Linked DNA regions of Homo sapiens: all the other regions are linked to region 3. Evidence: fine-mapped expression QTL. A gene starts in region 3. Each other region holds a variant in brackets. All regions are shown on one strand. Distances are between the middles of the regions. Region 1 holds the start of AVIL (advillin). Region 2 holds the start of TSFM (Ts translation elongation factor, mitochondrial). Region 3 holds the start of CTDSP2 (CTD small phosphatase 2).

Region 1 (10,644 bases), 29 kb before region 3:
CCAAAGTGCTGGGATTACAGGTGTGAGCCACCACGCCCAACCCATCCTGTTGTTTTGTGTGCATGTTTTTGTTTTGTTTTGTTTTGTTTGAGATGGTGTCTTGCTGTGTTGCGGGGCTGGAGGGCAGTGGCATGATCTCAGCTCAGTGCAACCTTCGCCTCCTGGGTTCAAATGATTCTCCTGCCTCAGCCTCCCGAGTAGCTGGGATTACAGGTGTGCACCAGCATGCCCGGCTAATTTTTGTATTATTAGTAGAGACGGGGTTTCACCATGTTGATCAGGCTGGTCTTGAACTCCTGACCTCGTGATCCGCCTGCCTCGGCCTCCCAAAGTGCTGGGATTACAGGCGTAAGCCACCATGCCTGGCCATGCGTGTGCTTTTTAAAACAGAAATTGGCATTCTGTTATATGTCTTAGTCTGTTTCTTACTTTGTGTGCTAAGCACCATGTTTGTGAGCTCTGTCCTTGTGTTAGGTGTGTATCTAATCTGTTGCTTCTGGCTACTGCATAATACTCCGTGGTGTGCATGTCCAGTCTCCGAGTGATGGACACCTACGTTGCCTGCAGCTTCCTAACATCATTAATGAGGCTGCTATGAACAGTCTGGTCCATGTGCCCTTATGGACCTGGATACGTGAGGATTTCTGTGAGTTACACATGCAGAAGTGGGATTTGCAAGTGGCACTGACTACTCTCCAGGATGCTGCGCTAGTCCACACTTCCATCAGCAGGGCACAAGGGCTCCTATTTCCCCATAGCCTTGCCAACACTTGGCACCTCCCAGCTGTTTAATCTGCTGCTCTAGTGGGTGGAAGTGACAGCTTTGTTTTGATTTGCATTTCTCTGATTACTTTCTTGATAATGCATGTTGGCCTTTTGGGTTTCCTCCTCTGTAAACTGCTGTTTCTGTCCTTGCTCTGTGCACCCCTACTCACATGATGCCCTGCTTGAAGTAGCCACGGAAAGTGTCTGACTCATGGTACTGGACCTCTCGGTGCTGCACAGGGCTGCCTCCCAGGTAGTCGTCCAGCTGTGTGGTATATATGGCTGCGCAGCTTTGCTCATCCTGGGAGGAGTCCTTCCCGATCCAGAAGTGGATGTCCTGGGATAGGAGACTGGCCACTCTCCGGGTCTGGGAGGTAGTCAGAGAGATCAGGTCAGAGGCCAGCTCACCTCCCCTTTGCTGCTGGCCCCTGTTATGGGGAGAATGCAGCACATGTGCATGCCCTTGGCAGACTGAGGGCCCTCTCTCCTGCAGTGGATGTGGGAGCTGCCCTGGCCCCCGAGCAGACCTGCGATCATGGCATAAACTTTGGCAGCCCAAATTCCTCCCCGCATTTGGGGAAAGTTGACAGCTTGTTGTTCCCCAAATAAATAGATACCAACGGGGATCTTTTCCCAGCCGGGTTGCAGGCTTACCTCACAGGTCCCCTTGGTCCCTTGCACTCACACAGCTGGCACAGTGCTCATCTGTACACCTGCACGACCCTGTCAGCACCGTTCATGTGAGTCTCCTCCATGAGAATAGCACTTTGAGGCTAGAGACAGGCCTTGCATTTATCAGGCCTTCTTCCACACCACTTTAATGTGGGGCCTAGGCCCGGGAGAAGTGCTGCTTGTGGGTGGCTCACTGAGGTTCAGACTGAGGGTCCTACCCCCATCCTCTTATGCAGCATTAAAAACCCAGGCTTAATGATGGCCTTTGATAGTCAGACTGGAGGTCTGCTCTGCATAGCACTGAGGAACCATTGAGACCGATACCAGGGACTGACTACCTTCCCTCACCAGCACATCTCCCAGTACAGCCCAAGAACTGGCCCCAGGGGAGAGGCTCACAGGAGTGGGGAGGAGGGTGCTCACCGAGAGGATGACGTAGCAGTCCCCCTCATAGAAGTTGCCGTGGGCGCTCACAGGCACCAGCGCCAGCTCCATTTTCTGGAAGGACAAGGGGTGGGTATAGGCTACATCCCCTCCCACCTCCCTTCCCCATGAGCCTCCCTCTCCTCTCTGTCATTCGGTGCAGGTGGTGGGGAGAAGGAGGGGAGATGTTCTCAATGACCTTACAGGATGTGAGGCTGCCAGCCACAGGGTTAACGTGGCCATCCCTCTGGCTTCTGTGAGCTCTGCTTGCATCACCCCGGATCTGAACCTTGGTCCCTATCCTGCTTTCCCTTGCCCTATTCTCCACTCTACTTCCCACCCGATCTCATCTCGCACTATTGTGGGAAACCTGTGAACCACCTCCAGCCCTTTGCTGGATATAAACGACCAAGTACAAACCCTTCTCTGAGCCGTTGTGCCAGCACCTCCAACGCTCTTCCCAACGCTGACCACTGGGTGCTGGCCCAGGCCCATGTAAGAAAGAACACTTGGATTCTGTGGGGCCGTGGGAGGTGGAGGATAACATTTGGAGAGTGCCAGCGGTCAGCAGGGCTCTGTGCCAAGTGTCTTATATTTGGAGTCTGGGTCAGGGCCCTGATTTATCACTGCATGTATGGCTTGGCCCTGGAGGACTGTTCACACAGCCTTGATGTAGATTTTCATCACACTCCCCAAGTGAGGGAAACTTGCGGCCATACTTGTGTGTGTTCTATGTAAAATGTGATAAATGTTAAATATACTGCAAATCTGGTAACCGTGTTTTAGTACTTGTTTTTTGTTTTTGTTTTTGTTTTTTTTGAGAGGGAGTCTCCCTGTGTCTCCCAGGCTGGAGTGCAGTGGCGCGATCTCGGCTCACTGCAAGCTCCGCCTCCCGGGTTCACGCCATTCTCCTGCCTCAGCCTCCTGAGTAGCTGGGACTATAGGCGCCTGCCACCATGCCCAGCTAATTTTTTGTATTTTTAGTAGAGGTGGGGTTTCACTGTGTTAGCCAGGATGGTCTCAATCTCCTGACTTCGTGATCCACCCGCCTCAGCCTCCCAGAGTGCTGGGATTACAGGCGTGAGCCACCGCACCCCGCCAGTACCTGTTAGTTTTTAAGGAAACTGGAAGCCTTCAAACAGTGGAAGTGACCTGGGACTCACAATCTCTGCGAGGCTTGCTGGAGAGCTGACTCCCCCTCCTGGTTGAGGATAGTGAAGTGAGGCATCATCGCTGGGTTTTAGGCAGCAGCAACTGACTGGGCTCAGGGCAGGGGTTGGGGGGAATCCTCGTATCTGGCAGGTGGAGCTACCCAGGCCAGGGTGGTTCCCAGCTATGGATTGCTGGAGCTCACAGCCGCACAGAGGGTCCCAAGCCCAAGAGGAGACGGGCTGAACAGCTCCTCATCTCTGCAGTGCCCCCTCACCTCTCCCCATATTTTGTAGGAGCCAGGGTGCCCCGTGGAAGACATGTTCCATTTCTCTGATGGAAGCTGCCAGGAGTCTGCTGAGTAGGTCCCACCTGTCTTTCCAGGGTGTTTCCTGCAAGTGCAGACTCACTGAGCAGGTGGCTGGCTAAAGGACAAGCCTGTTTTTGTCTGGAGCCCTGTTCTTCGGGGCTGAACATTTCCTCCACCTGCCAACCACCTGCTTTGAGCACCCAGGAGAGGTGAAGGATGGGAAATAGGTACTTTGATGCTGCCTCTCATTCTCCTCAAACCATAGGCTAAGGGGTGCTGGCGGGCTGTTGCCTAGCAGCCCCAGGCAGCCAGACTGCTTCCAGATGCCAGTGGTCACAAGTAAGGTGCCTCCAGCCCAGCTCACCTCTATTCTCCAGACAATGATCCCAGGGTCGTTGTCCACAGCCCTGAAGGCACTGGTCAGAGGCATGATGCTTGTCTTTCCAGGACTGAAACATCACAGAACAAGAGGGGAGATGATATCTCTTGCCATAGTGGGCATCAATCCAGTTTTTCTGCCGAGCTGCTTCCCAGTCTGTTGTCAGCCATCCTGCCACACCCTCATGGTGCATCCCTGCACCATTTCACAATGATGGGGGCAAGGACTTGTCCAAGTGCACATGGTGAGCCTGGCTGGCCTGGGGATTACCACCCATGAGTTCTGCTTCCCACCTGCCATTGCCCTTAAGAGCTCTGGTAATCGTCATGGTTATTTACCAAAGGGGTGATAAATATGTTAAGCCCTGTATTGATTCACTTTGCATATGTTATCTCTAATTTTCAGAAGGTGAGTTTCTTCATCTTACATTGTGTGAATCTGAGGTTTGCAAAGGCTGAATAACTTGTACAAGATCACACTCTAGAATGAAATCCTTATCTGATCCCCAAACCTGTGCTTCTAGCCACTTTGATGTACTACAACCCTTCCTAAACCAATCTAAGTTCAGTGGCATTTGGAAAGAAAAGCTAGTCAGAAAAAATATTTCCAAACTCAGTTGCCTTCTCTCACTCTCATTCCAATTCTTCCCAAGTTCCCTGCTTGCAAGGCCTTCTCCACAGTCAACTTTGACCTTCTCTTTGGCTTTTGTCCTTTTTTTTTTTTTTTTTTTTTTTTTAGAGTAAACTATTCTTAAACTCAAACAACCCTTCCTTCTTTTGTCACTACTATATTCCCTGTGCTTTCCAGATGCAAGGAAAGTAAAATGGCAGGGCTGGGCCTGGGACAAAGGGTTCTGGGTGCTAGCAGGGTGTGGCCTGGTCTGGCCTGCGGACAGATGGCTTCCTTTTTCCCTCCCACACAGACCCAAGCTTCTGTGTGGAAGCGTGAACCTCAGACACTTAGACGTCTCCAGTTCCTTCAGGATTGAGCAAGTCAGGGTGGGGAGAGGGGGGAAGTGGTAAAGATCTAAGTCTGTGTAGGTCGTGTACCATCTGTATTCAAGGAGCATCTTGGGTAATTAAGCACCTACCCATGTCCAAGGCCACGTAGAGGCTTTATAGAATTAAAATACCTGCTCTCAAGGAGCTTGAAATCTGATAACATGCATAATTAATGTAAAGCTAGATTAATTTCTCCCAAGAGGCAAAGGAAAAAGGATGGGGTTGATGGATTTATGTAAGATTTAAAAATTCACCCAGAAAGGACTGTATGCATTTTTGCTGTTTGGGGACATACTGTTTGTTAAGAGGAACATGTCTGACCATTGTTTTCTTGAACCTTGATGGACAAAGCCAAGTTTGGAGAGCATGCGCCATCTAGTATGGACTTTGGCAAAAAACCATAAAGCTCAAAGCAGACTCGCTTTGTCTACTGCTGTAGCAGGACTAAAGCAAGGCAATGGTGCGGAGCAGCCAGTGTTTGAGAATTTAATTTGATAACTTGTGCTGCCCCACCCTGTGCTGCTCAGAATTGCCAGGAAATATGGTGTTTGGGTTTTCTTCAGACCCTACGTAGCAGTCATTAAAGGCAAAAGCCATGAGCCAACTAGGGGAAGGGGACAAGGGCCACTGAATTCATTCCTTGGAGACAGAGAACTGTCACCCTGGTAAAAGCCAAACCAGCCGGCAGCAATTAGGACTGTGAGCCTCAGAGGCTGAAACCTGTCCCGTTTCCCAGCAGGAATTTAGGAATCAAGGAGCTCCCTGGGCCAGGCACCCCGAATGCGAGAGGATAAGCTCCAGGAAGGGACTTCCTGTCACACTGGAACACACAGAAAACACAGTTCTGACATCAAATCTCCCAAAGCTGGGTCTCTCCTTCTCCCTAAATCCTAATTCAGTATCCTTTGAGAGGACTGCAGAAACCCCTTGGGTGTGGGGCACAGTTTTGAAATGTCAGGTTAAAAGCCAGTGGCCTGTAATTCTCAGAGATGCCCTTTTGGACGGACCCTGAGCAGAGGAAGCTGTTTTTTGTTGTTGTTGTTTTTGAGACAGGGTCTTGCTCTGTCACCCAGGCTGGAGTGCAGTGGTACAATCACGGCTCACTGCAACCGCCACCTCCTGGGCTCAAGTGATCCTTCTGCCTCAGCCTCCTGAGAAGCTGAGACCACAGGTGTGCACCACCATGCTTGGCTTTTTTTTTTTTTTTTTTTTTTTTTTTTTTTGTAGAGACAGGGTCTCACTATGTTGCCCAGGATGGTCACAAGTTACAAACTCCTGGGCTCAAACAATCCTCATGCCCTGGCTTCCCAAAGTGTTGGGATTACAGGTGTAAGCCACCTCTCTGGGCCAGGAAGCTGGTTTTAACTCCTCCTGCCTTGCTCCATACCATCTTTCTCTAGGGATAGGTGAAAGGGGTCTGTCTTTCCCAGCTTTTGAAAATGTGCCCTATATGTTCAGCTGCCTCTAAGGGGTTCTTCTGAACAAGAAGTTTGCAAAACTGGCCAGCCAGACTCCTGGTTCATTTTAAAAGCCTCATCTCAGAAGACAAAGCCAAGGGACTCTCAAGCTCCTCTTCCTTTCATTTCTTCCTCATTCAGGAGGATTAACTGGCATGCCCCCGTAAATCAGAGACCTTACCTTGCCTTCTCGCTCACCAGCCTTCCCAGTTTCCCGGCGCGTAAGCAGCAGCAGTATTGAAGAACCACTCCAAAGCAGGAGGCTCCAGGTCCTGCTGCCTTAGCTTAGTAATGGCCGCAGAGATACTGGGTTATATTTGCTTGTGTTTGCATCTTAACCGCATTTTCCTAGTCCTGGCCAATCAGAGCCAACCTAGCACTGAGCTTGGCTTATTCAAACCAGAGGGAAAGCTTTATCTGTGCCTATTCAAAACAGCAAAACAGAAGAGCAGACTTTTAAAGGCTTCTTTGAACTCCAGCTCCACGCCCTGATCTAATTGATTTTTTAAAAAGTGCACACAGCCCATCAATAATGCAGGAAAGAGGTTGGAAGGATATGAAATTTGCCATATTGTAGATATGGATGCATTATGGTGATGACAGGAGGAAGAGGCTGGAGCTGCCCCATGAGTGCCTGTGATGTCTAGGTTGGCAAGAGCCTCCCTAAGAAGCTTCTGGCATTTCTCAAAGGGAGGGGAAGTCTGGGAGAGGAGCCAGAATTTTATTAGGCCACAGTTTTGCTCGTTGGGGTCTCTACTAGTCATACAGTAAACCAATCAATATTTGAGTGCCTGCTGTTTGCCAGGAACCATGCTGGGCTCTCAGCTTCAGGGTTTCCAGTTTGGAAGAATCAGTGAGGGGCAGAGAAGAATCAAGACTCCATTCCCAGGGCTGGGTGTGGTGGTGGCTCACGCCTGTAATCCCAGCACTTTGGGAGGCTGAGGTGGGTGGATCACAATGTGAGGAGTTTGAAAACAGCCTGGCCAAGATGGTGAAACCCCATCTCTACTAAAAATACAAAAATGAGCCGGGCGTGCTGGCAGGCGCCTGTAATCCCAGCTACTCAGGAGACTGAGGCAGGAGAATCGCTTGAACCTGGGAGGTGGAGGTTGCAGTGAGCTGAGATCATGCCACTGCCTCTAGCCTGGGCAACAGAGCAAGACTCCATTTCAAAAAAAAAAAAAAAAATAATAATCCATTCCCTTAGGGCTTCTGGTTCATGCCCAGAAGTCAATAGGACATCAAGCATATACACGTGCTAAGCACCTGACTGCAATGGGGTTGATCACAGCAGAACTTGTGTAACCTTGAGCGGAAGCCCTGTGTGGCATCTGCAGCTGGCCTCCCGGTGGGTGCAACACCCCACTCAGCCCGGGGGTGCAGCTGCTTCATGATGGAAGGGGTTGCGAGAAGAAAGGCGGTGCTTGCCATGGGCCCAGTGAACACTTAAGGGCCAATGAAGGTTGGTGGCAGCTCACATTCCTGGAAAGGTTTTTTAAACCCACTTTTATTAATTAATTGTAAGTAATACAAATATTCCAAAAATATAAACAGACACTTAATGGCGTCCTGCATTTCAAGTTTTTGAATACAACAAATTTATCAAACCATGAATCTGTAAGCAAGGTAGTCAGAATCCCATAGCCCAGTCACAGTGGGAAGCAGATCCCCTACCCTCCAAATGGCATCTTGAAGGGGGAAAGCGGCACGAAATGGAACATGATAAGCAAAAAAGCTCACGAGGCCCAAAGAGGAGGGTCCGCTCCATGGGCAGGCCCTACAACGTTAAAAGAATGGGGCAGCTGGCCCGACCTCTGGCCTCCTCTTCCCTGGCTGAATGTAAATATTTACCAGCATTTAGAAAAAAGGAGAAAAAAGACAGAACTAAACCCGTTTAGGAAAAAGGGACCGAGGGACAGCAGTGGTTAAGTAATCCACTGAGGACCTGAAGGGGAAAATGGACTTACCTTTCTCATATACTTGGCCTGGCTAGGACACTGGGTGCCAGACAGCCTTCTGAGGGGATTTTCTTTCTAAATGAGGCCTCAGGAACAGGTAGGGGCAGCAGAATAGAATAGCATCCATTTCCCAGAGAAAGACTGCCTTTACATTTCCCATGCTTTTAGCACAAAGCAGCGTCTGGGCCACTGTTACCAGAGGTGAGTTTATACATTTACAAAATGCTTAAAATCTTTGGGAAGCAAGAGGAAGCTAAACAGAAGGTCCCATGTTAACTGAAGGCAAATTCACTCAACCTCTCTAGTAAGGGACCCATGGGCCTACAGAGTGTTCCCTCTACAATGTGCAGAGTGGAAACCCTTACCTGACCCTTTTCCAAACTGGTCCTGTGTCCAAAGCTCCCCCTATGAGAGGGACACGAACATCAGGCTTTTGATTTAGAAGCCCAATCAGAGAGACACAC[T/A]GTGTCCCTGAAGAGGCACCTTAAAAGAACTGAACCTGGCAGGTAGGCAGATTCCTGGCATGGCTTGAATTGGTGCTGACCAGGCATGGTGGCCTATTGCCTCCCAAAGACCAGTCTCAAGTGGGAGGGGCTGATGGTGGGAAGCCCTAGAAGAGAGTCTGGGATGAAGCGGCCTCCTCCCTGTCTTGCCCTCCAAAATTGAGTCTGGCCTGATTCCTTTGAGGAGCAAATTTTACAATCATCCCTCACCCTAACACACGGTGAAACTGGAAACCCGACAGCAAATAATGACTAGGCTGGCTCTGGTCCACAAGAACAGACCCTGGCTAGGTTTGGCCGAGTAGCTTCTCTGGGGCAAGTGGGAATGGCATTGTTGGGGGGGAGTTGCAGGTGGGCAGGCAGGGTTCTGATGGGAGTGAGGCCTAAAAAGCAGGGGCTTCATGCAGATGCAGCAGGGACACTCCCACCAAGCCATCCTGGGCTTTGGTCATGGGTCCCACGCCAAGCACTTGGACAAGTCTGTTAGGAAAGGGGGTGGCACATGCTCTTCCGCCATCTGGAAAAACATGGAGATCCAAGGGAGGGCGGAAAGGGTCCTTGCAACTCAGTCAGCTTAGAGCCTCTTATTGCTTATTTAGTCAGAAAAGCCTGGCTGGGCCTAGACGGCAAAAGATTTGGCCAAGGGCTAACCCTTAGGGTGGGGCTTGGAAGAGAGGCCCCTCCTGCAATATTAGGATAGCAGCCTAGGTCAGGCCTTGGGTCCGAAGCCACAGCTGGCTCTAAGAGTCTGAGCTCCTGCTTTCCTTCAAGAGACAGTATATTTCTGGCTAGCACATGGGGTCCTTCTCCCTTTAGGTACACCGGGACCCCATAGGCACCGGGGAGTGATGCTGGCGGAAATGGCCACATGAGTTCTGGGGACTCTGTTCCACTTTATGATTCCAAAGAGAAAGACAAGGCCTTATAACCTTGGGACAAGAAGGGAAGGTGGCACCACAACGCTAGAGAAAAATGCCAGCCAGCCACCGCTGAGAGCACGAAGCTGCTGCTCTACTACCTGCTTTTCTCAAAACTTGTTAGTTCCTGAGGCTGGATCTAGGGTGTGGCAATGGAAGGGATGATGGGGAAGAGTCCTGAGTGGGTGGTGTCCCTGCACCTAAAGCAATTCACAAATGCTTTGTGATACCTGCCTCCAGGGAACACAGAGATGGGAACAGGAGCGCCCTCCCACCCCAGGAGGAGGGAGGGAGGGAGGAGAGAACCCCACCCACCCCAGGGAGGCCACGATTAAGGCAGTGATGCTGAGGTGGGGCTCCTTTTTGGGAGGCCCCTTGTGCTCCCAATTACAGCAGCACTTCCTCTTATTTTCCACCCTGGGAAAACTTCCATTTCGTGATGACTTTAATTTTAAAGCATTCACTATTAAGAACCTTTGAAAGCAGGAGACACCCAGAGTGCAGGTCTGAGGGGCTCACTCACTCCTGTTACCAGAGGCAGAAAGCATGCGCATTAGGCTGGCAAATGGCAAGAACACTCATTCCCCCTCAGCCCAGGAAGAGCAAGAGTTCTGAGGCCCTTAAGAGGAAAAGCAACAGCCAGGAAGGATGAAGGCTGGAACAGACAGAGCTCGGTACAGGACAGGCCCTGGGGGAAGACACAACAGGAAAAGAGCCCTGCCCAAGAAATGGGAGGGGCTGGGACAGCTTAGTTTTTCCCAGCCTTTGGAACAGAAGTCCTTGCACCAGCACCAGCAGAGAATCCCTGAAAAGCAGACTTATGGAAATGATCCCGAGCTTAGCTGATCCACAAGCCATGGGGACACACGTCCACGCTTTGAGGATTTGTCTTTTCCCTGCAACCCCAGCGCCGCCGACATTCATTACAGGCCCAGGACTGTAACTTTGTCAGAAACAAACCAGGCCCAACACTCTGTGTTTAGAAAGAGAATTTTAAAACACAGTCAAAAGAACGGAAATCAGTTATCTGTCCTCTTCCCGGGCAGGGAGAAAACCTCCTTCCCCACAGGTTTGAGACTATGGCTAGGTGGTGAGGAAGGCAGGCTCAGC
Region 2 (10,644 bases), 60 kb before region 3:
ATTAAGCCTTAAAAATCTATTGTGCAAGAACCCAACTTTTACTCAGGAGCTGAGAAGGAAGAAGCCTCAAACCACCCATTTCCTGCTTTTTAGAGATAGAGTCTAGTGGAACCATGGCTCTAACTGGGTCAAGTCCTCCTAGCTCTGAAGCTAAGGCTGCAGAGCTGTCCTTTGGACTGTATTTCTTCATGCTTTCCAGAGTTAGAGCCTTGATCACGGAACATCATTGTGTGCAGAAGAATACTGTACCTAGTACTAAGTTCTTTTCATCTTTGATTTTTCTTTAGCTTCATCAGTCCTTCCTTCCTAATCTCTAATCCCCTGAAGCCTAACACAGTTCCTAATGTGTTTTGCCTTAACCTCTTTTCTCTTCCCACATTGGTACTTCTGGTTGGGGCTCTCTTTACTTACTGCTTAGGCACATAGTCACCTTCTCTGGACTCCCTGCTTCCATGCTTTCTCCTTCAGTCCATTCCGCAAACTCTTGTGATCTTCCAAAATTAGCTCTGATTAGCTTTCACTTCCTGTAGAAGCAAGAACAAGCTCCTCTGCTTGGTACTTAGTCTGTGTCCATGTGATCCAAAATTACCTTCCTATTGCATTTCCTACTCCTTTGCTACGTGTATTGGACCTCTGGCCAAATTACAAAAGATGTACTCTTTGTTCTCTAAAACCACACTAAAGTTTTCTGACTTCTTTCACACTCTTTATGATAATCCTCTGCCTGAAAGGCTATTGCCACCTGTCAAAATCTTCATTATTCTTTGCCTCTTTCCTGAGCCTCTTGCTTGAATGTGATTTCTTTCTCCCTGAGACCCATAAGGTTCATCTTATGGGACCTTAATTTGTCTTGCATGGACATTTGTGATTCTCATTTTCTCACCATTAAATTACCTTGGAGGGTAGGGCTGTGGTTTACTCCTGTCTAAACCCCTGAAGCCTAACACAGTTCCTGGCACACAACAGGTGTTCAACAGATATTGTGCTCATTCAATAAATATTTACTCGCTTTGTTTAATGGATTCCACCCCTGCCTTCCTAGGTGACCTTGGACAAATTCTCGAACCCATTCACCAACCACACAAGTTTGTTGTGAGTCATAAATGGATAATGAATATAAATGCGCATTGAAAATAAACATAAAATGTTACCCACATTTCTTGTGTTGTTGTTTTGTGACGACTTTATTTCTTGGTTTCTGTTATTTTACCTGGGGTGGGAGGTGGGGGGTAATTCCCGTATGAAATGTGTCGTCTCAAGAAATCAAGTAGAGGCGAGGACTGTGTTCCTCCGGCCAGCAGGTGGCACCATACTCGTTTGGTGCGTTCCGCTGGAGAATTCTGGCCCTTCCGCCGCGCCGTAGGTTTGTTGCCTCACCAGTGCGCCCGCCGGAGGGTGTTTATCGCGGCTAGAGAGATGTCGCTGCTGCGGTCGCTGCGCGTGTTTCTGGTCGCGCGGACCGGGAGCTACCCGGTGAGAAGTCCTGGTGCTGGTACCGACCTGCTGTCCCTGCAGCTCTCCTGTGCGCCTGTACCTTTCCCTTCCTCCCAACCTCGTTTGACTCCATCTCACCTTCCCCGACAGCATTGCCTCTGCCCAGTCCAGCCCCGGTGCACCCCCCTTTGCACACTGTCCGCTCCCTAAGGTCGCTTCCCTGCCCGTGTACCCTTCACCCTCTGGAGTTTGCTGCTTCCTGCTCCTCATCCCTTTCTTATCTCATCTAGGCTGGGTCTCTTCTGCGTCAGTCGCCCCAGCCAAGGCACACATTTTATGCTGGGCCCCGTCTGTCTGCCTCGGCCTCCAGCAAGGAGCTCCTCATGAAGCTGCGGCGGAAAACAGGCTACTCCTTTGTAAATTGCAAGAAAGCTCTGGAGACTTGTGGCGGGGACCTCAAACAGGTGTGTGTGTGGAGGGGTGCAGGGCGGAGTACTAGAGCTCGACCTCAGACTCTTGGGGCGGTCACGCTGGGGAGCATAAAGTTAGACTGCTCTTCAGTGACCATAATGGCACAGTCCTAAGTGGAAATCTGGCTTAAATGACAACCTTGGCCTTGACTTTGTCTTATTTGAAAGCAGTTGAGTATCCCAGGATTAACAAACCAGACTGTTACGGTGTTTCTTGTTGCCTGGAGCTGAAAGGGTTTGTGTGAGCTTTGGAGTCAGATTGTTCAGGAGTCAAATTGTGGGGCCCCCACACTGTCTGACTTTAGACTTTTTTTTTTTTTTTCAGACGGAGTCTTGCTCTGTGGCCCAGGCCGGCGTGCAATGGCACGATGTTGGCTCACTGCAACCTCCGCCTCCCGGGTTCAAGCGATTCTCCTGCCTCAGCCTCCTGAGTAGTTGGGATTACAGGCGTGCGCCACGACACCCGGCTATTTTATTTTTTATTTTTTATTTTTTTTTGTATTTTTAGTAGAGATGGGGTTTCGCCGTGTCGGCCAGGCTGGTCTCGAACTCCTGGCCTCAGGTGATCCGCCCGCCTCGGCTTCCCAGAGTGGTGGGATTACAGGAGTGAGCCACCGCGCCCGGCTGACTTTAGACATCTTAATCTTTCAGAGTTGTGTAGTTTTTGCCTGTACGGTCATGCGTCTCTTAATAGGAAGATACATTCTGAGAAATGGCGTCGTTAGGAGATTTTGGCTTATGCACATCATAGAGTACCTACACAAACCTAGATGGTATATTGTACTACAACCTGGGCTATATGGAATTGCCAGCTGCTCCTAGGCTACAAACCGTTACAAAATGTTACTGGACTGAATACTGTAGGCAGTTGTAACACAGTGGTAAGTATTGTGTATCTAAACATAGAAAAAGTACAGTAAATAGGCATAAAAGATAAAAAACGATACATCTCCATAGGGAACTTATCATGTATGGAGCTTGCAGGACTGGAAGTTGCTCTGGGTGAGTCAGTGAGTGGTGAGTGAATATGAAGGCCTGCCTTAGGACACTATGGTGCACTATAGTAGACGTTAAAGCACAGTACACATAAGCTACATTACATTTATAAGAAATTTTTTTCTGTGATAATAAGTTAACCTTAGTTTAATGTAACATTTTTATTTTATAAACTTTTAACATGTTTTAAATTTTTGGACTCTTTTGTAATAACAGCATAAAACACATATTGTACAGCTGTACCAAAATATTTTTCTTTATGCACTTTTTCTGTGAGCTTTTTTCTGTTTTTAAAATTTTAAACTTTTTTTGGCTGGGCGTGGTGGCTCATGCCTGTAATCTCAGAACTTTGGGAGGCTGAGGCAAGCGGATCACCTGAGGTTGCGAGTTCGAGACTAGCCTGACCCACACGGAGAAACCTCGTCTCTACTAAAAAAAAATAAAATTAGCCTGGTGTGGTGGCAAGGGCCTGTAATCCCAGCTACTCGGGAGGCTGAGGTAGGATAATCTCTTGAACCCAAAAGGCGGAGGTTGTGGTGAGCCGAGATCGTGCCATTGCACTCCAGCCTGGGCAATAAGAGTGAAACTCTGTCTCAAAAAAAAAAACAACAACTTTTTTTATTGAAATATCTTTTTTTTTTTTTTTTTTTTTTTTTTTTGAGACAGAGTCTTACTCTGTCCCCCAGGCTGGACTGCAGTGGCACAATCTTGGCTCACTGCAAGCTCCACCTCCCAGGTTCACACCATTCTCCTGCCTCAGCCTCCTGAGTAGCTGGGACTACAGGCGCCCGCCACCACGCCCGGCTAATTTTTTGTATTTTTAGTAGAGACAGGGTTTCACCGTGTTAGCCAGGATGGTCTCGATCTCCTGACCTTGTGATCCGCCCACCTCAGCCTCCCAAAGTGTCGGGATTACAGGCGTGAGCCACAGCGCCTGGCCAAAACTTTTTTTAAGTTAAAAAATTGTTTTGTTAAAAACGGAGACACAAACACATACATTAGCCTAGGCCTACACAGGAGTGGCATCATCATTAACACTGTGTTCCACTTTCACATCTTGTCCTGCTGGAAGGTCTTCAGGGGCAGTAACGGGCATGGACCTGTCATCTCCTATGATAACAATGTTTTTTTCTGGAATAC[C/G]TCTTGAAGGACCTGCCTGAAGCTGTTTTACTGTTAAATTTTTTTATTTTTTATTTTTTTGAGACGGAGTCTCACTTTGTCACCCAGGCTGGAGTGCAGTGGCGCGATAGATCTTGGTTCACTGCAACCTCCGCCTCCCGGGTTCAAGAAATTCAGCCACCCGAGTAGTTTATAAGTTGGAGTACACTCTAAAATAACAATAAAGCATATGTATTATAGTAAATACATAAGCCAGTAACATAGTTGTTCATTATTGTTTCAAGTATCATGTACTATATGTAATTGTATGTGCTATACTTTAATAGGACTGGCAGCACAGACGTTTTCTTTACACTAGCATTGCCACAAACATGTAGGTAATATGTTGCCCTACAATGTTAGGAGGACTACCGTGTCACTAGACAATAGGAATTTTTCAGCTCCATTATAATCTTAGGGACCGTCATCATATATGCAGTCCGTCATTGTCCAAAATATCGTTATGTGGTGCGTAACTGTATAAAGAAAATACAACTGTGTGCCCCATAGGGTTGTTGTGAAGATTAGATTCATCCAAGGCACCAGTTATAATAATACCTGGTATTTGGCATTTAGTGGTAGACTGCCAGTAAATGATAGATTACTTTAGTTTCTGTTAGAGAATTTAGAGAATCAGGAAACCTGAGTATATCTTAGAACTACATTTAGTGCTAAATTCTGTGACTTTGTTGTCTGCTCTTTTTCCTCTCAATTTACAGGCAGAGATCTGGCTCCACAAGGAGGCCCAGAAGGAGGGCTGGAGCAAAGCTGCCAAGCTCCAAGGGAGGAAGACCAAAGAAGGCCTGATTGGGCTGTTGCAGGAAGGAAACACAACTGTATTAGTAGAGGTGAGTTGTTGGAAATTCCAGATACCAAGAACAGCTGTCCCTTGGGTGTAAAGCTTGTAGTAGGCCCTAAAGGGGCCTGTTCTTGAAGAAGAGATCTGTTTAAGAACCATAAAGCGTAGTTGAAGTTAAACTCATGAAACCCTGGGTATTAGTTACGAATTCGTTTAAGTATAGAAATGTACTGGTGTGTTGATGAGAAATGGCCTGACAGTCTAGAATATTACTCCTGAATGTGAGTCTGGCACAGGCTTACACCTTGTCACTGATTGTTTCCTGGAACAGTTAGATTACAAGTTAATTATATTAATTGTTGCTGAATAGAGAGTAGGTATTTTAGAGGAGGTTTGGGGGCCATAATTGGTGAAGAGTCAGATGTGGATTAGTTTAGAGTGAGAGATGGGGATAAACAAGATAATAGCATAAGTGGTTTGGAGTTGGGATGGCTGGAGAATGAGGTGATGATGGTGTGCAGACATAGGTAAGTGGTGAACTTGTGGTGAGTCCTTCAGGACATTATTGAACCATCTTCTGAATATACAGGCTATTGCTAACTCACTGGCCCAACATAAATCACTTCATTCTGTTCCAGGCTAGGAGAGGAAGCGTAGCTTTAAAATTTTGGAGTCATTTTTTTTCCGTTGAGTCTGTAGCTTGTTCTATCAGTATCTTGATTTATTCTCCAGCCTTAAGGCACTTTTGGAAATTATCATTAAACAGCTTATACAGCTATATCAATTTGTTCCCACAGGTAAACTGTGAGACAGATTTTGTTTCTAGAAATTTAAAATTTCAACTGTTGGTCCAGCAAGTAGCCCTTGGAACCATGATGCATTGTCAGACCCTAAAGGATCAACCCTCTGCATACAGTAAAGTAAGTTTGGGATTTGTCTCCAGTGTGCTGAATTTGCTGTCCTCATTGGGTCTTTTGCTGTTCCTATTGTAGACATTCTCATGTCTCATTCTGTTACTTCACATCTCTGCTTAAATGCTATCTCTTTGCATAGAATTACCCTTCCCCCGTTGCTATATCCCCGTGTCATGCTGCATTTAAAATTTTTTATTATGGTGCTTATATATTACATTTTAATTTATCTGTGTGTTGTCTATCTTCCCCAGCAGAATGTAAGCTTTATGAGGCAGGGAATTTGTCTTTTCACTGTTGTATCTCTGGTGAAAGAGAATTGGGCCCACTACTTAGTTGGAGCTCAGTAAATCTTTGTCAGATGAATGAATGAATGATTGAATGCATGCATGCCAGTGAAATGGAGTTAGCCAGATCAAGTGAAGCCATTTGAGGCTTTGTGTTCAGAAATTTGGAATGGTCTTAGGAAAGAATTTCTAAATAAAGAGATTGGAGCCAGGTGTGGTGGCTCACCCCTGTAATCCCAGCACTTTGGGAGGCCGAGGCAGGCAGATCACCTGAAGTCGAGAGTTCAAGACCAGCCTGACCAACATGGAGAAACCCGTCTCTACTAAAAATACAAAATTAGCTGGGCGTGGTGGCGCTTGCCTGTAATCCCAGCTACTTGGGAAGTTGAAGCAGGAGAATCGCTTGAACCCGGGAGGTAGAGGCTGCAGTGAGCCGTTGTACTCCCCCCGGGCAATAAGAGCAAAACTCCGTCTCAGAAAAAAAAAAAGAGAGAGAGATTGGAAAAGACATGGTTTAGGAAAATAAGCATATTCTTATCCATAGAGGGATCAAGGAAAGGAATTATGTCATTCTGCCTTTGACTCAGCCTTATTGCCAAGGCAAAGATGAACCAACCACTCACAGTAATTTTTTTGAGTTTATTACCAACTTTTTTTATCTTCTTTATCCTTCTCTTGAGATGTCTTGGTAAATGTTAATTATTATTGGCATTACATAGTCATATGGAAAACAATGTTGAGATTATTTTTTTTAATTGTATTGAGTAGGTAAGTCACTTGAACTAGAAATTTTAGCTTTGATTTTGCCAGTAAACACCAGTGTACCCTTTTTTTTTTTATTTTTGTTTTTGTTTTTTGAGATGAAGTCTTGCTCTGTCACTCAGGCTGGAGTGCAGTGGTGCAATCTTGGCTCACTGCAACCTCCACCTCCTGGGTTCAAGCAATTCTGCATCAGACTCCCGAGTAGCTGGGACTACAGGCGCCCGCCACCACACACGCCTAGTATTTGTATTTTTTGTAAAGACAGAGTTTCACCATGTTGGCCAGGCTGGTCTTGAACTCCTGACCTCAAGTGATTCGCCCGCCTCCGCCTCCCAAAGTGCTGGGATTACAGGCGTGAGCCACCATGCCTGGCCCCAGTGTACTCTTTTTCCAGATTTGCCATTTATTAACATTTTGCTGTATTTGCTTTATCACTTCTTTTTTTCTTTAAGAGACAGATCTGGCTTTCTTGCCCAGCCTGGAGTGCAGTGGCACAATCATTGTTCACTGCTGCCTCAAATTCCTGGGCTCAAGTGATCTTCCCACCTCAGACTCCTGAGTAGCTGGGACTACATGTGCACACCACTATGCTAGGCTCATTTTTAAGTTTTTTGTAGAGACAGTCTTGCCATCTTGCCCAGGCTGGTCTCAAACCTCTGGGCTCAAGAAATCCACCTGCTTTGGCCTCCCAAAGTGTTGGGATTATAGGCTTGGGTCACTACAGCTGGCCCTATCACTTTTTATATACATGTTATCATCGCCCTTTTTTTTTTTTTTTTTTGAGATGGAGTCTCTCTGTCACCCAGGCTGGAGTGCAATGGTGCCATCTCGCTCACTGCAACCTCTCCCTCCCAGTTCAAGCGATTCTTCCACCTCAGCCTCCCAAGTAGCTGGGATTACAGGCACCTGCCATCATGCCCGGCTAATTTTTTTTGTATTTTTGTAGAGACGGGAGTTTCACCATGTTGGCCAGGCTGGTCTTGACTCCTGACCTCAGGTGATCTGCCCACCTGGGCCTCCCAAAGTGCTGGGATTACAGGCGTGAGCCACTGCACCCGGTCATCATCACTGTTTAAAAAAAATCTTTTTGTAAGTATGTTGCAGACATCAGGATCCTTTATTCCTTCAGCATGTATCTCGTAAAAACAAGGACATTGTTATATAACCACAGGACAGTGATCACATTTAGGATTTTTTTTTCTTTGAGACGGAGTGCAGTGTTGTGATCTCAGCTCACTGCAACCTTCACCTCCTGGGTTCGAGCAATTCTTATGCTTCAGCCTCCTGAGTAGCTAGGATTATAGGCATGCATTACTACTTCCAGCTAATTTTTTTGTGTTTTTAGTAGAAATGGGGTTTTGCCATGTTGGTCAGGCTGGTCTCGCACTCCTGACCTCAGGTGATCTGCCCGCCTTGGCCTCCCAGAGTGCTGGGATTACAGGCGTGAGCCACCGCACCCAGCCAAAATGTGTTAGTTTTAGTAGTTGTCATTCTACTGTTAGAAATAAATTTCCCTTCTCATTTTTATTTAGTGATTTATTCAGCACTAACATTGACTCGTGGGTTCTTATTTTATACAATAAGTTATAACTCATTATTCGTTTTGATGCTCAAATTATCTGCGGATTTGATCAATGCAAGCTGACTGTAATGTCCTTTGATATGCCCTTATTATTTTCTGAGTATTTTCTTACTTTTTGGCTTTTTTGTTTATTCTTATCTTTTGGGTTTATGTCATACTTTCCTTTCCCCAACTGTGGAATGGGCCACTTCTTCAAGGAGTCCTGGTCCTTTTTAGTTGGGGAATGGTTTTTAGAAATCAAGATTTGAATGTTAGGTGTGCTGATTTCTTTCTTTCTTTTTTTTTTTTTTTTTTTTTGAGACAGAGTGTTGCTGTGTAGCCCAGGCTGGAGTGCAGTGGCGCGATCTTGGCTCGCTGCTACCTCTGCCTCCTGGGTCCCGGTTCAAGCAGTTCTCCTGCCTCAGCCTCCCGAGTAGCTGGGATTACAGGCACGTGCCACCATACCCAGCTAATTTTTGTATTTTCAGTAGAGACAGGGTTTCACCATGTTGGGCAGGCTGGTCTTGAACTCCTGACCTCGTGATCCACCCATCTTGGCCTCCCAAAGTGCTGGGATTACAGGCGTGAACCACTGCGCCTGGCCAGGTGTGCTGATTTCTACTGAGATGTCATTTGTTCTTCGAGCAGACAGTGCAGGTGTATGTGCTGTGTGCGTGTGGTTCAATCCTTCCTTTTTCATAGCAACTTCAATATGTTTACTGTTTTTAGTTATGTACTCATATGTACTAAGTGTTACAATATATATACAAAATTGTTTCAGAATTGCTACCCCTGACCACTGCAAATAACAAAACTACTAAGGAGTTCAAGATTTATTTGTAGTTCTTTTTGTCTTTACATTGAAGTTAGGTGGTCAAATGACTCCGTTTAGTTATTTGGATTTTTTTTTTCCTTCTGTGAGCTTATGTTACTCATTTGAAATATAGTTTTATATTTCTTTGTAGTCAGTATTTATTTTCACCCCAAGTATGTGTTGATTTAATTTTATTTTAATTTTATTTTTTAAATGTGTGTTTTTTTTTTTGGCTGGGCACAGTGGCTCATGCCTGTAATTCCAGCACTTCGGGGTTTTTTGTTTGTTTTTTAAATCTTTTTTATATTAATAGAGATGAGGTTTCACCATATTGGCCAGGCTGGTCTCAAACTCCTGGCTTCAAGTGATCTGCCTGACTTGGCCTCCTCAAAGTGCTGGATTATGGGCATGAGCCACGGCACTGGGCCAGATTTTTTTTTTTTTTTTTTAAGATGGAGTTTCACTCTCATTAGCCAGGCTGGAGTGCAATGGCATGATCTCAGCTCACTACAGCCACCGCCTCCTGGGTTCAAGTGATTCTCCTGCCTCAGCCTCCTGAGTAGCTGAGATTATAGGTGCCCGCCACCACACCTGGCTAATTTTTGTATTTTTAGTAGAAATGGGGTTTCACCATGTTGGCCAGGCTGGTCTCGAACTCCTGACCTTAGGTGATCCACCCGCCTCAGCCTCCCAAAGTGCTGAGATTACAGGCGTGGGCCACCGCGCCCGGCCGGCCAGGTTCAATTTTATTTTTGAATACATAAGATACATTAAGAAAGTCCTCAAAGTTAAAACTGTCAAAAAAAAAGTATGCTCAGAGGAGTCTTACTGCTTCTCTCCCTTCTACCCCGTTCCTATCCATCCCTTTATTTAGATAACCAGTGTCATTGGATTGTGGTTATCCTTTCAGTATTTCTTTTTGCAAAAATAAGCATATTTATACAAATAGTTCTTTGTTGCACAGATAGTAGTATAATATGCATATACACTTATAATCTGCTTTTTTCACTTAATAATATGTCCTGGAAATACTCCATAGCAATTCATGAAGGTCATCCTTTTTATTTTTTCCAACTACATAGTATTCTGTTGTGTGGATGTGCTATAGTTTAATCTCCTGCTATGTTTGGGCATTTAGGCTGTTTTTAAAATTTTCTGATTAGAAATAATTGTTCAATGAATAATCTTGTGCAGTATTATTGGAAGTATATCATCAAGGTGAATTCATAGAAATAGGATTTCAGGGTCAAAGGATAAATGCATATGTAGTTTTATTAGATACTACAACTTCACACCATTGGATTTGTACCATTTTGCATTCCCATCAAAAATGTGCAAATCTAGCTCTAACATTTTATGATTTTATGAAAATATTGTTCTTGGCCAGGTGCAGTGGCTCACGCCTGTAAACCTAGCACTTTGGGAGGCTGAAGCAGGTGGATCACTTGAGGT
Region 3 (10,644 bases):
ACAGGAGCAAACAAATAGCTTAAGAACATCTATTTCTCTTCAAACCCCATTTTCTTTTTCCCCCTCTTATTAAAATTACCTAAAAGAAACCTCAATCTCTCTGAATTCATTAACTCTCAAAGCAGACAGTGAGAGAATGTAGCATACAGTTGTCCTGAATATTCGTTATATCCATATTTGAGAACCTCTAAGGAAGTTTAGACTTTAGAGACTCACAGGGGGCACATGCCTGGCCTTCTCCCACCCCCAGATGCCCAGGCACCAGACAGAATGGCCAAAGTCCCACAGCCCAGGCAGATAACAAATCACATCCCAAGTCACATGACACAAAGAAGGGGTCTGTGCAGCAAGGCTGTTTGTAAGCCTAAGAGGTTGATCCTTCCAGAAGGCCCAAGCCCCCACAATCAGTGTCCCCTCTGACCCCCGGCCACCTGTCTTGAAAAATAAAACCCACAAGACTACGTGCTGTTTACACTGTGTCCTTGGGGGAATGGAGGAGGGCGAACAGAGTAGTCTAACTATGTAAAGAGGGAGGACATTAATATTTATCAAGCACCTACTAAGTACCAAGTATAATAGAAGGGTAGATATCATTATTACTACTTTATAGATAAGTTACTCAGAATACTAAAGTGATTTATCAAGTCTCATTGCAAATAGGAAAAGAAGGTATTTGAACCCAGGCCTGAAGCAATTTTGCTTCAGAAACAATGCTTTGAAGTAACAATGTAAACTTTAACCACCATCCCTGACCCTGGTCCCCACTCTGTCCAATCTAAGAACCAAACTTACCATGATGGGAATAAAAGACAATACCCCAAATTACCCAAAAGCTAGCAGAAAAAAAAAATTGTAGGAGGAATTGGAAGGGAAGCTATGTATTGATATGTACACACATACACACAATCCCATATATATTTACATATTGTCTTTCTTTTCCATGCTTATTTACAAACACTTTAATTCTTCACAGGTTGGGAGCATCAATTCACGTTGGCTAGAAATGTGACTTCTTTAGTATTTACCATTTTAACAAAATCCATGATAAGGGATTTGGAAGGTCCCATGGAAAGGATGAAATGACACCTCTCTGCTACCCAGTTTCTTTAAGACCTCTACGGTTGAGAAGAGAGGACAAAGGAACACCCCCACCTCTGCCATCCTCCGAGGGATTTTTCACAGCAATTCCAGTGCTGCTCAGTGGAAAGCTCTGCAAGTCAACTGCAAACCCCCAGCCCCAGATGTTAGGCATTTACAAACTTTGTTGCTGATTTATCAGCGCTCCTCTGCAATTTTGGGGACAGGAGCAAACACAAGCTTAAGTCACCACGCAGGCTGCAACCCTTACCCAAAGATGGGGGAAAAACTCCAAAGGAGATGCAGGAGGGAGCCTCAGCAGTCACTGTGAGAGCACAAAGAGGCCAAGACCCAGGGTAGGCAAAGGAAGGTGAGAGGCACCAGCAGGGCAGGAGGAGGAGCCAGCTATAAACATGCAGGCTTCCCGCCCCCTGCATAGCAAGCTATGGAAGGAAGCTCCAGCAAGATTCATGTCTAAGCTTTTCAAGTTAAAGGCTTGCCTACATCTACAGTGAACGGTGTCTGAACAACTTTTTGAGGGAATAAGGCAGAATTTCTCCCTTATGCGGATAACAAAAGAGCTAGCCATCCTGAAAACTTGCCACATCGTAATTTTCAGAGATGGTCAGTCTCTCAGAAGAATCCTTGCAATTAGCTATCAGAACCTGTCCAGTTCGGCATGTGAGAAGGTAATCCAGGGCATCATCGAGAGGAAGGGGCATCAGGATTCATGGACAACAAAAAAATCTCTGATTCCTCCAAAAGGCGTGTGGGTCACTGAGCTCCGGAAGAGGCTGCCTCCACCAGGTCTCATTTCACGTTGGGAGGTTACAGCGTGGGTCTTGTTTCCTTGGCTTTCCCCCATCTAATCCCAAAGCCAAGGTCACAACCTCTTAGCAATGGGGTGACAATCTCATATAGAGCTGCAATCAACAGCCATTCTTGCCAAGCTGATATTAACATTTCTTTTTTCTTTTTGATGTTACACACAATCCTGTCCTTGCTGTACCAGAAAGCCATTTCACCCATCTGTCTGGGAAGATGATCCAATTTTGGTGCTTTTATCATCAATGCTTTCAGCAACTTTGTTCTACTTCCCCTACTGTAATTACTTTTGAATCATCAACGCACCCAGACAGCCTTAAACCTCAGAGAACAGAATGCTAAAAAAAGAAAAAAAAAACCCGCAATGGCAAGTAACTTCACTAAATAGCCACCCAAGCTAGGAGCAATTTGTTTCTTTCCAGAAATTTACTTATTAATAATAAGTACCTCACACTCCTTCTTCCCCTTTTTCCAAAGGCAGGCAAGGCATGGAGATGGGATGTTGTGGAGAGGACGGAGTGGGGAGAAGAAGGAACTCCAAAAGGAGCCAATTAAAACATCTGCTTCCCCAGTCCCCCAGCTTTTGTTTTTTGTTTTGTTTTGAAGACGTAGGTTTTGTTTGTAAATGATGTGGGACTCAGAAAGTTGGTTTAGTGGTTGCTGGGTGCCTAAGCAGCCCAGGAAGAAAGTCTGTCTTCTCTGGAATGCAATCAAATTACATGGGGAGGGGCCGGGCGCGGTGGCTCACGCCTGTAATCCCAGCACTTTGGGAGGCCGAAGGGGGCTGATCACCTCAGGAGTCGAGACCAGCCTGGGCAACTGGCGAAACCCCTGTCTCTACTAAAAAATACAAAAAAATTAGCCAAGCGTGATGGCGCGCGCCTGTAATCCCAGCTACTTGGGAGGCTGAGGCAGGAGAATTGCTTGAATTTAGGAGGCGGAGGTTGCAGTGAGCTGAGATTGCGCCACTGCACTCTAGCCTGGGCAACAGAGTAAGACTCCATCTCAATTAAAATAAAAAATTACATGGGGAGGGAGAGACCCAGTGGCTGCTGGCTTAAACCACACACACAAAAAAGGAGAAACATTAACTCCAAGAAAATCCAACACCAGCAACTTAACACTGTCAAGCCAGTTGCTTTGCTTTCTGCTGTTATCTATTCTGTAGCCTGCCATTCACCCTGGTGGATGAAACTTCCAGCTCTGATTTCTAAGATGCCCCGGCGCAGTCCAGCTTTCCCTTACTCCTCGCGTGGCCCCACGATGCCCAAGGCACACTCCCTGCAAGAGAGTCCCTGCAAGAGAGGAAGACCTAGTGGGGAAGCACAGGGCTCCTCCCCCTACTCATCACCACTGCCCCCTCTTGAATCCCCCCACATCTAGGTTTCTTCCCCTCTGGCTAGCTCTTAGGGTCTTTTCCTGGGATAAAAAGGGAGTGGGAAGAGTCAGGAGTGAGCTATAAACACACGCAGGCTCCCTTCCTTTTTCAGCCATCAGCACAGTTGAGCAGCCAGCAGAGGCGGTGAAGTTGCTGCCTGGGTCACAGCCTGGTTAGTGATGCAGCCAGGAGAGCAGAAATCATGGCAACACCGAGGTCAGGGAGGCCGGAGCCTTCTCGGGGGTTGGGATCTGAGTAGGCAAGGCCATCCCTTCTCAGGGCAGGCTTATTTAAAGTCCGGCCAGTGATGCAAGAGGAACACACTGCCTCCCTCCCCCCACCCTTCCCCCCTCCCAGCTCCTCTCGTTCCACTGAGGGAATTTGGGAGAGGCTGACACCACCAACTCAGCGGATTTGCCCCTAGGGAAGTTGGGGGAGCTCCTTGGAACGTGAACCCCAGGAATTAGTGACCTGCTGACTAATGTTGCCAAACGGGGAGACGTGGGGCGCACGAGGCCCCGAAGCTGGCCGCCCACCAGGCTCTAGGCCTCAGTGTGTTCAACTGCAGCACCGGCCCTTCGCGCTCGGTGGAGAAGGGGAGGGAGCGCTCCGGCTTCGGCCCCAGGAGCCAGCTCCCGCCCCAGCCTCCGGGGCCAGGTGGCCCCGGTCGGGGGGCTCTCTAGAGAAACGCCACACTCGTCCTTACACCCCGCGGAAAATCTGCCGCTATTTTGGACACATTCCTCAAGGCCAAAAGAAGAACGTGGCGGAGGGGGAAAGAGTTTCGAGTCTCCCACTGTGACCAAACTAAGAGGTTCCACCCTCGGGCCCCAGCTTTCTCCCGCCCCGGGAGAGGCCTCGGCCTCCGCCTCACCCCCGCGAGGGCCTGCGGGCCCCCTCGCGCCTCCACCTGACGCTCTGGAAGGCGGGGGCCGCCAGCCGCTGCCCACAGAGAACTCGCACTTTTTCGCTGCGCGATTCAGAACCACGCCGGGTCTGATGCCATCCGGCGAATTATGTAACCAGGGACACCGCTCCCGGGCTAAACAAACGCGGCTCTGTGTGTGCAGCGCCGGCCCCGGGGGAGCGCACCGGGCAGGGAGGGGCTCTGGCCGGGCCTCAGGGTCGGGCTTGTTTGCTCAGCGAAACTGGTCAGAGGCAGCCGGGAGGGAGCCCGACGCCGCCAAGGTCCCGGGGCCTGCGCTGAGCCGGGAACCCGCCACGTCTGGTGCGCCAGGGCCCGGGCCCCTCCCCCACCGCGACCGCCCCCGCCTCCAAGAGGTGAACTTGGTCCCAAGTCCCGCCGGACGCCGTCACCGCCAGCTAGCTGCCCGAACGACCTCGGGCTTGGGGGGGCCTGCAAGTGCTGGACTCCAGTCTCGGTTCCGTTCCACCTGGGGCTCCCTCTGTCACCTTCCTAACCCCTCCCCGCGATCCCGGGGCAGCCGCGCGCGGCGGTGAAGGAAAGTGACGACCCCACCCCCAACTCCGGAGGCGGTGGACGCGGAGTGGCCCAGTGCTTCGAGAGCTACCCCTCCGTCTCTCAGCCCCGAGGGGGAGGGGTTGCGGGACAGGGTGACAGCTGCGCCGAAGACGCCCTTTCCGCTCGGGCGCCGGGATCCCCGTGCAACCCCCACGGAGGTCTGAGTGCCAGCCGGGATGCGGGGGCGGATGGACCGGAGGGGTCCAGTCGGGATCGCTGGCTCTAAGCCCTGGAGGTCAAGGGCCGAGACCTGGGTTCGGGGCTGTGCTAGCCCCCTCCGCGCCCGGGGGCGACGCAAAGTTTTGGGAAGTTGCTGCCCCTACCTTGCTTGGTGAGCACCAGGGCGTCTTCCCTCCGCGCCTGGGTGATGATGGAGCCGTGTTCCATCTAACAATCCCGCGGGCCCGGGCTGGCTGGGCGGGAGGACGGGCGGGCGCGCGGGCTGGGCTGGGCTGGGGGGCCTGGGCGGGGGCCCGCTCCGGCTCCCGAGACTCCGACTTCCACAGCTGTTCACATCCCCCCTCTCGTTTCCTCCCCGGACCGGGAAGGGAGGCGGCCTGTACAAAGGGCGGGCGGCCCGGGCAGCGGCTCCCCCGGGTGCCCCCGGCCCCGATCCCCCAGCGGCAGCTCCGGGCTCCTCAGTTTGGGTCCAACATGGAGAATCCGGAGCGAAAACAAGAGGAGGAAATGGGACACGGGGCGGTTTCCAGGCTCCCCCCTCCCCTCCGTACTCCAGATAAACAACCCGCGGCTGCAGCGCCCACCCCCGCGCGCCTCCCGGCTCTCGACTCGGCCTCTTCACGGCCAGCTGGAGCTTCCCGCTGGGGGCTGCGTCCTAGGCCCTGGGACCCTCCATCTGTGAGCGGCCGGGGCTGCGGACAGTCGGGAGCTTTGCTATTTTGTTACGGAAAAAGCGAATCCTCAAGGGGGGTGGGGTGGCGGGCGGGCAGGCTGGCGGGGGAGACTTGAAACCGTTCCGGTGCTCCGATTGGCTCTCTTGGAGAAAAGGGGCGTGGCCCCTCCTTACTATGCGGTGAGAGGACCTAACAACATTCCAGGCGCCACGGCCACGCCCCCGGGCCACTCCCCCCGCGCCAGACTGCGGCCTCCCAGTCTCCTCGGCCACACCCCCTTCCCAACTATTTAAAAGGCCGCTCCGAAGCTCACGTTCTGGTGCTCTGTGCTGGGGTGTTCTTTTCTCGGAGGGCGCACTCGGGGAAGGTGGAAAGGTTTCCCCCTTCAGGGGTGACCAAGACAAGCCGCTAAGCCTAACCTGACTCCAGCAGGGGATGGGGCGGATCGGAAGTTACCTTACCCCCCTGCTTAGCCCTAGAATCAAGGACGTACCAAGTCACATAAAAGTACAACCGTCGAGGCCAGGCGCGGTGGCTCACGCCTGTAATCCCAGCACTTTGGAAGGCCGAGGTGGGTGGATCACGAGGTCAGGAGTTCAAGACCAGCCTGGCCAAGATGGTGAAACCCCGTCTCTACTAAAAATACAAAAAAATTAGCCGGGCGTGGTGGCGGGCGCCTGTAATCCCAGCTACTCGGGAGGCTGAGGCAAAGACTTGCTTGAACCCGGGAGGCGGAGATTGCAGGTAGCCGAGATCGCGCCACTGCACTCCAGCCTGGGCGACAGAGCGAGACTCTGTCTCAAAAAAAAAAAAAAAAAAGTACAACCTTCGAATCCCGAAAGGGGTGTGTGCGTGTGGGCGGACCTAGGACTCCAGAGTATAAGAGCTGGAACTGACCTCGGGACTGTGTCCCCCAAAACACTGAAAATGAGACCTGAGGTGCTGGGCTTTCCTCACACCCACCGACTTACTCCCATTTAGGCGGCCCCGACTCCGCCCCTCCTCCCTACCTCCCTCATCCTACCCCTCTCTTTTTGCCCCCACAGTCCCAGCTTCCTTTAGATGGATGGAGGTCTCTCGGAGGAGCTTCAGCTTTGTGGACTCAGGCTGCCTTCCCCACTTGCTCTTTAGGCCTCGGGGCACGCTCCGCTGGCTACAGCTCCTGGAGTCTCTGCTCAAGGTTGTGGGTGCTTTTGTTCCCCAGCGGTGGTAGCTCCAGAAAGGCTGGTTTCAGCTCAATATCAGGTCTTTTCCAGTGATCTACATCTGTCCACAGGTGACATGGGCTGCCTTGGGACAATGGTAGCTGTTCAAGTCAAGGCCGGCAAGAGTGGTGTAGAGTGAGATTGCACTGGGTGACTTCTGAGCTAAATCCAACCCCAATATTCTGTGATTCAGTGGCACTCACCCTGCCAAGGAAGGGGCTTCCTTCCTGCTGCAGTTCCCATTGCCCAACATGCATCAGGTCTTACTGATGATTAGAGGACAACTAGGTCACAGCTAAGCTTGCCAGGTACTATCAGACACCTGCTTCCTATGGTCCCTTCCTCATGAGGACAGGTGAGGTCATGATCTGCATATGCCTGTGTGCCATACAGTGATCATGTGTGCCTGTTTCTGCTGTTCCTACGCACGTATACAAAACCTTTTTATATAACATCATTTTAATGGAAATGCTGTTTTTCCAAAATGAAAGTGGCTGTTACAGATCTGAATGATGCTTATGTAACTTTAAACACTGAATTTGGGTAGATCTTAATTCATTAACAGAAAGGGAAACGGAGGAGTTCTGACATACCCACCTCCCATCATTAAAACAATAGGATCTTTAAGGTAAATCTTCAATAGTCAGGTTGCTATGGGGGCCTTTTTAGACCCTTCCCCTGCCCTCTTCTAAGGTAGATTAGTTGCAGTGGGAGGAATGCAGGCAGGAGCTGAGGACTGAGGATTTAGAGGGGCCTGCTACCCATAGCACTGTAGGGCAGGACACTTCACTTCGTTATGCTTCCATTTCCTCATCCATAGAGACAATACCTCCCCTTTTGTAATTTACAAAGTACTTTCACATATATTATCTATTTCATTTGATCTCTCACTTCTTTGAGGTTGATAGAGCAGATATTATGCCCATTTTTATAGATGCCTGTTTTGTAAATGAGGAATTGGTCTGGGAAGGTTAATTGACTCACCTGAGACCTCACAGCTTGTTAAGAAGAGGAGACAGGATGTCTTTGGACTTTAAGACTAGAACCCTTGACACTTTAACATAGTTCCCTTCTTATCTATAGGATGGAGGAGACACTAGAACCTATCGCTCTCTTTTCCTGCTGTGAACTCCAATTGCATCACCTCTCCTGGAAGCCCTCCCAGATGCCCGCCCTCATGTCAGGGTTTTATAGCCTCATACATACTCTCTCAGACCACTTGGCACCCTATCTTGCAACTGTGTGCTTATTGGCTTCCCAACCAGAAGGTGGATTGAGACTAGGGGATGTCTTATTCTTTACTGGATTTCTTGTGCCTAGCAGAGTGCCTAACACAGAACAGGTGACTTGTACATGTTGAGATGAAGTCTCACTCTGTTGCCCCAGCTGGAGTGAAGTGGCGTGATCTTGGCTCACTGCAACCTCCGCCTCCCCGGTTCAAGCAATTCTCCTGCCTCAGCCTCTTGAGTAGCTGGGATTACAGGCACCTGCCACCATGCCCAGCTAATTTTTCTATTTTTAGTAGAGATGGGGTTTCACCATGTTGGCCAGGCTGGTCTCAAACTCCTGACCTCAGGTGATCCACCTGCCTCTTGGCCTCCCAAAGTGCTAGGATTACCAGTGTGAGCCACCATGCCTGGCCTTGACTTTATGTCTGAACCAGTGTTCTTTTGTCCAGGGATTTGTTCAGTGACCTACAGCAAGAAACACATTTTATGTTGTGAGATAAATGATACAAAAGTTTCATGGACAATACTTACCCTGGCTATGTGTGCACACTCATATTTTCTATTGCACGTATTGTGTTCTATTTGATGGTTTTAAGGTGCCAGCCATGACCTTTTAAATTGAATTCACAAACCACCACCGGATTGTGACCCAGTGTTAAAACAATGCTACTTTCACTCCTGGATGCAGTAGATGCCTTCATGTGTGTCTCAGGGCTCTGGCTGTCCCTGAAAGATGCAGAGGAGATGGTCCTCAAGCATTTCTTGCTCTGAGGTCAAAGAAAAATTTATGTATAACAGATAGAACCCCTTCCAAGGCCAGAGGCACAAGGGTACAAATAGAACCCAGCAAGGAGGGGTAAATGAGGGAGGAGGGGCAGTTCCCAAGAGGCCTGGTGAGGACCCCTGTGCTTCCAGAGACTACAAAAGCAGTGGAGGCGCTACTGGAGCCTGGAACCCCAAACATAGGTGGGGCTTGCTCTCTTGATGCCACAGGCTTCTCACTGCTCTGTCCACAGATGACTAGGAAAAGGTCTGCACTCTGGAAAGCTCTGTAGGGTCATGGTGGGCCTCTTTCCTATAGTTGAAGTGGTGAGGGTGGTGGGAGGCAAGTGGACCTTCTAACTTCTGCCTAAAATAGCCTCAAAAATAACATCCTGCCTACGGGGCCTGGGCCAGTTGCTGGTTGTGTAACTTTAGGTGGTTCATTTTAGGTGGTTCAAGGGAGATAGCTGAAGCCAGGTCTAACAACTCTCCCAGGAGAAAGCCCACTGACTCTCACTTGGTTCCCTACCTGCTGTATCCCCTTTCCTCTGGCCTCTCTGACTGCATGGTTGGTAAGAGGCAATTTGGAAACAACAGCAGTGTCCCCATTACCCCCAAATGCTAGAATGGGGGGCTATGTGGGGCAAACATGGAGTGGCTGTCCCTGTCTGTCTCCTGCTGTGGCTACTGAAGTCGGACTGGGTGTCCCGAGCCAAGGCTGGCGAAAGGGAAACAGCTGGAGGAGCTTCCTCCATGGGAGATGCCTAATTGCCCTTTTCCCCACAGAAAATAAGTACAAGGTTGGGCTACCGACCTTTCATGATTATCTCTGATGTCACTGAAATATTACTTTTTTTCTTAAAAACTTTTTTTTTAAAAAAAGGAACACATTGATTTTCTTGGTTTTTCTGATTGTCCCTGCAGTCTCAGTTCTGCTTTGTATTGTTCATGAGTAGGTGGATGTCAATGCCAAGATTCCAGAGCTTGGTGCCCTCCTGTCACAAGGCTTGTATGGTATGGTCCTGTCCTGGCTTCCCAGGGCAGAGTATCGGGGCTGAGATGGGGTGGGGTGAGGGAGAGAGACCCAGTGGCTAATGACTGAACTGCTGTGAGGGTGCCAGATGCTGAGGGCTGCAGAGGGAGGGAGGAGCTAGTGGTAGCGGGGATAGCTCCTCTGTGCAACAGCGTGGGAAACCTCACTGCCTGCAAGGTGCAGGCATGCTCATCACTCCAACACCACCGCTTAATTACTTAACCTCTTGACTCAGTTTTCCCTTAAGATGGAGCGAACAATAGTACCTACTTTGTAAGTTATTGTGAGGATTAAATGAGATGATGTATGAAGTGTTTATGCCTGAAACACTGAGTGCTTAATAGACACTATGCTCATCATCATCATTCTCCTTTCCTCCAAAGCTGTTCCTTCTGCATCCATCATCTGCCCAGTTCCCCAAGCCAGAAACCTGAGGTCACCCAATTCTCTCCCACCTAACTCATGCCTACCCCCTATCAGTCCTGAAAACCAATGGCTCCTCCACTCCCAAAGGTTTGTCAGGCCTTTTCCTTCTTTCCATTCGCATGCATGACTGGCTGCTGTGTCAGGGGAGGTTGGCAACAGGCTTCTCATCAACCTTTTTCATTCTCTACATCCCAAATTCAAATCCATTCCCAGCTCTCCTAGAAAATGCAAATCTGACTCTGTCTTGTCCTGATCCTGTCTGTATGGAATGATTCAGCAGTTCCCTGAGACTTCCAGAAGGAAGCTTAGATGCCTAGCTGGGCACCCATGGTCCCCAAGATCTATCTCCTAGTCAGCCTGCCCACCCCATCT

The links. PIP is the estimated chance that this variant, and not a neighbour inherited with it, causes the effect.
Region 1: its variant is the best candidate, but not a certain one, in a credible set for the expression of CTDSP2 in whole blood (TOPMed, PIP 0.67).
Region 2: its variant is the best candidate, but not a certain one, in a credible set for the expression of CTDSP2 in whole blood (TOPMed, PIP 0.54).

The regions. Positions count from the first base shown.
Region 1 is chr12:57,812,292-57,822,935 of GRCh38, forward strand. It overlaps AVIL (advillin), which reads right to left and starts at 6,443. Exons shown (of 20, transcript NM_006576.4): 1 at 6,338-6,443; 2 at 3,684-3,768; 3 at 1,861-1,935; 4 at 936-1,132. The coding sequence starts at 3,749. CTDSP2 (CTD small phosphatase 2) reads right to left here. Exons shown (of 8, transcript NM_005730.4): 8 at 7,636-10,644. The variant T/A (reference allele first, on the strand shown) is at 8,579.
Region 2 is chr12:57,781,386-57,792,029 of GRCh38, forward strand. It overlaps TSFM (Ts translation elongation factor, mitochondrial), which reads left to right and starts at 1,402. Exons shown (of 6, transcript NM_005726.6): 1 at 1,402-1,473; 2 at 1,725-1,898; 3 at 4,778-4,906; 4 at 5,655-5,777. The coding sequence starts at 1,417. EEF1AKMT3 (EEF1A lysine methyltransferase 3) reads left to right here. Exons shown (of 3, transcript NM_015433.3): 3 at 1-1,156. RefSeq lists enhancers at 1,163-2,032, 1,386-1,455. The variant C/G (reference allele first, on the strand shown) is at 4,041.
Region 3 is chr12:57,841,286-57,851,929 of GRCh38, forward strand. CTDSP2 (CTD small phosphatase 2) reads right to left here and starts at 5,444. Exons shown (of 8, transcript NM_005730.4): 1 at 5,087-5,444. The coding sequence starts at 5,150. It overlaps CTDSP2-AS1 (CTDSP2 antisense RNA 1), which reads left to right. Exons shown (of 2, transcript NR_188077.1): 2 at 974-2,476. RefSeq lists silencers at 3,886-3,935, 4,266-4,565, 5,156-5,585, 5,596-5,675, 5,746-5,925.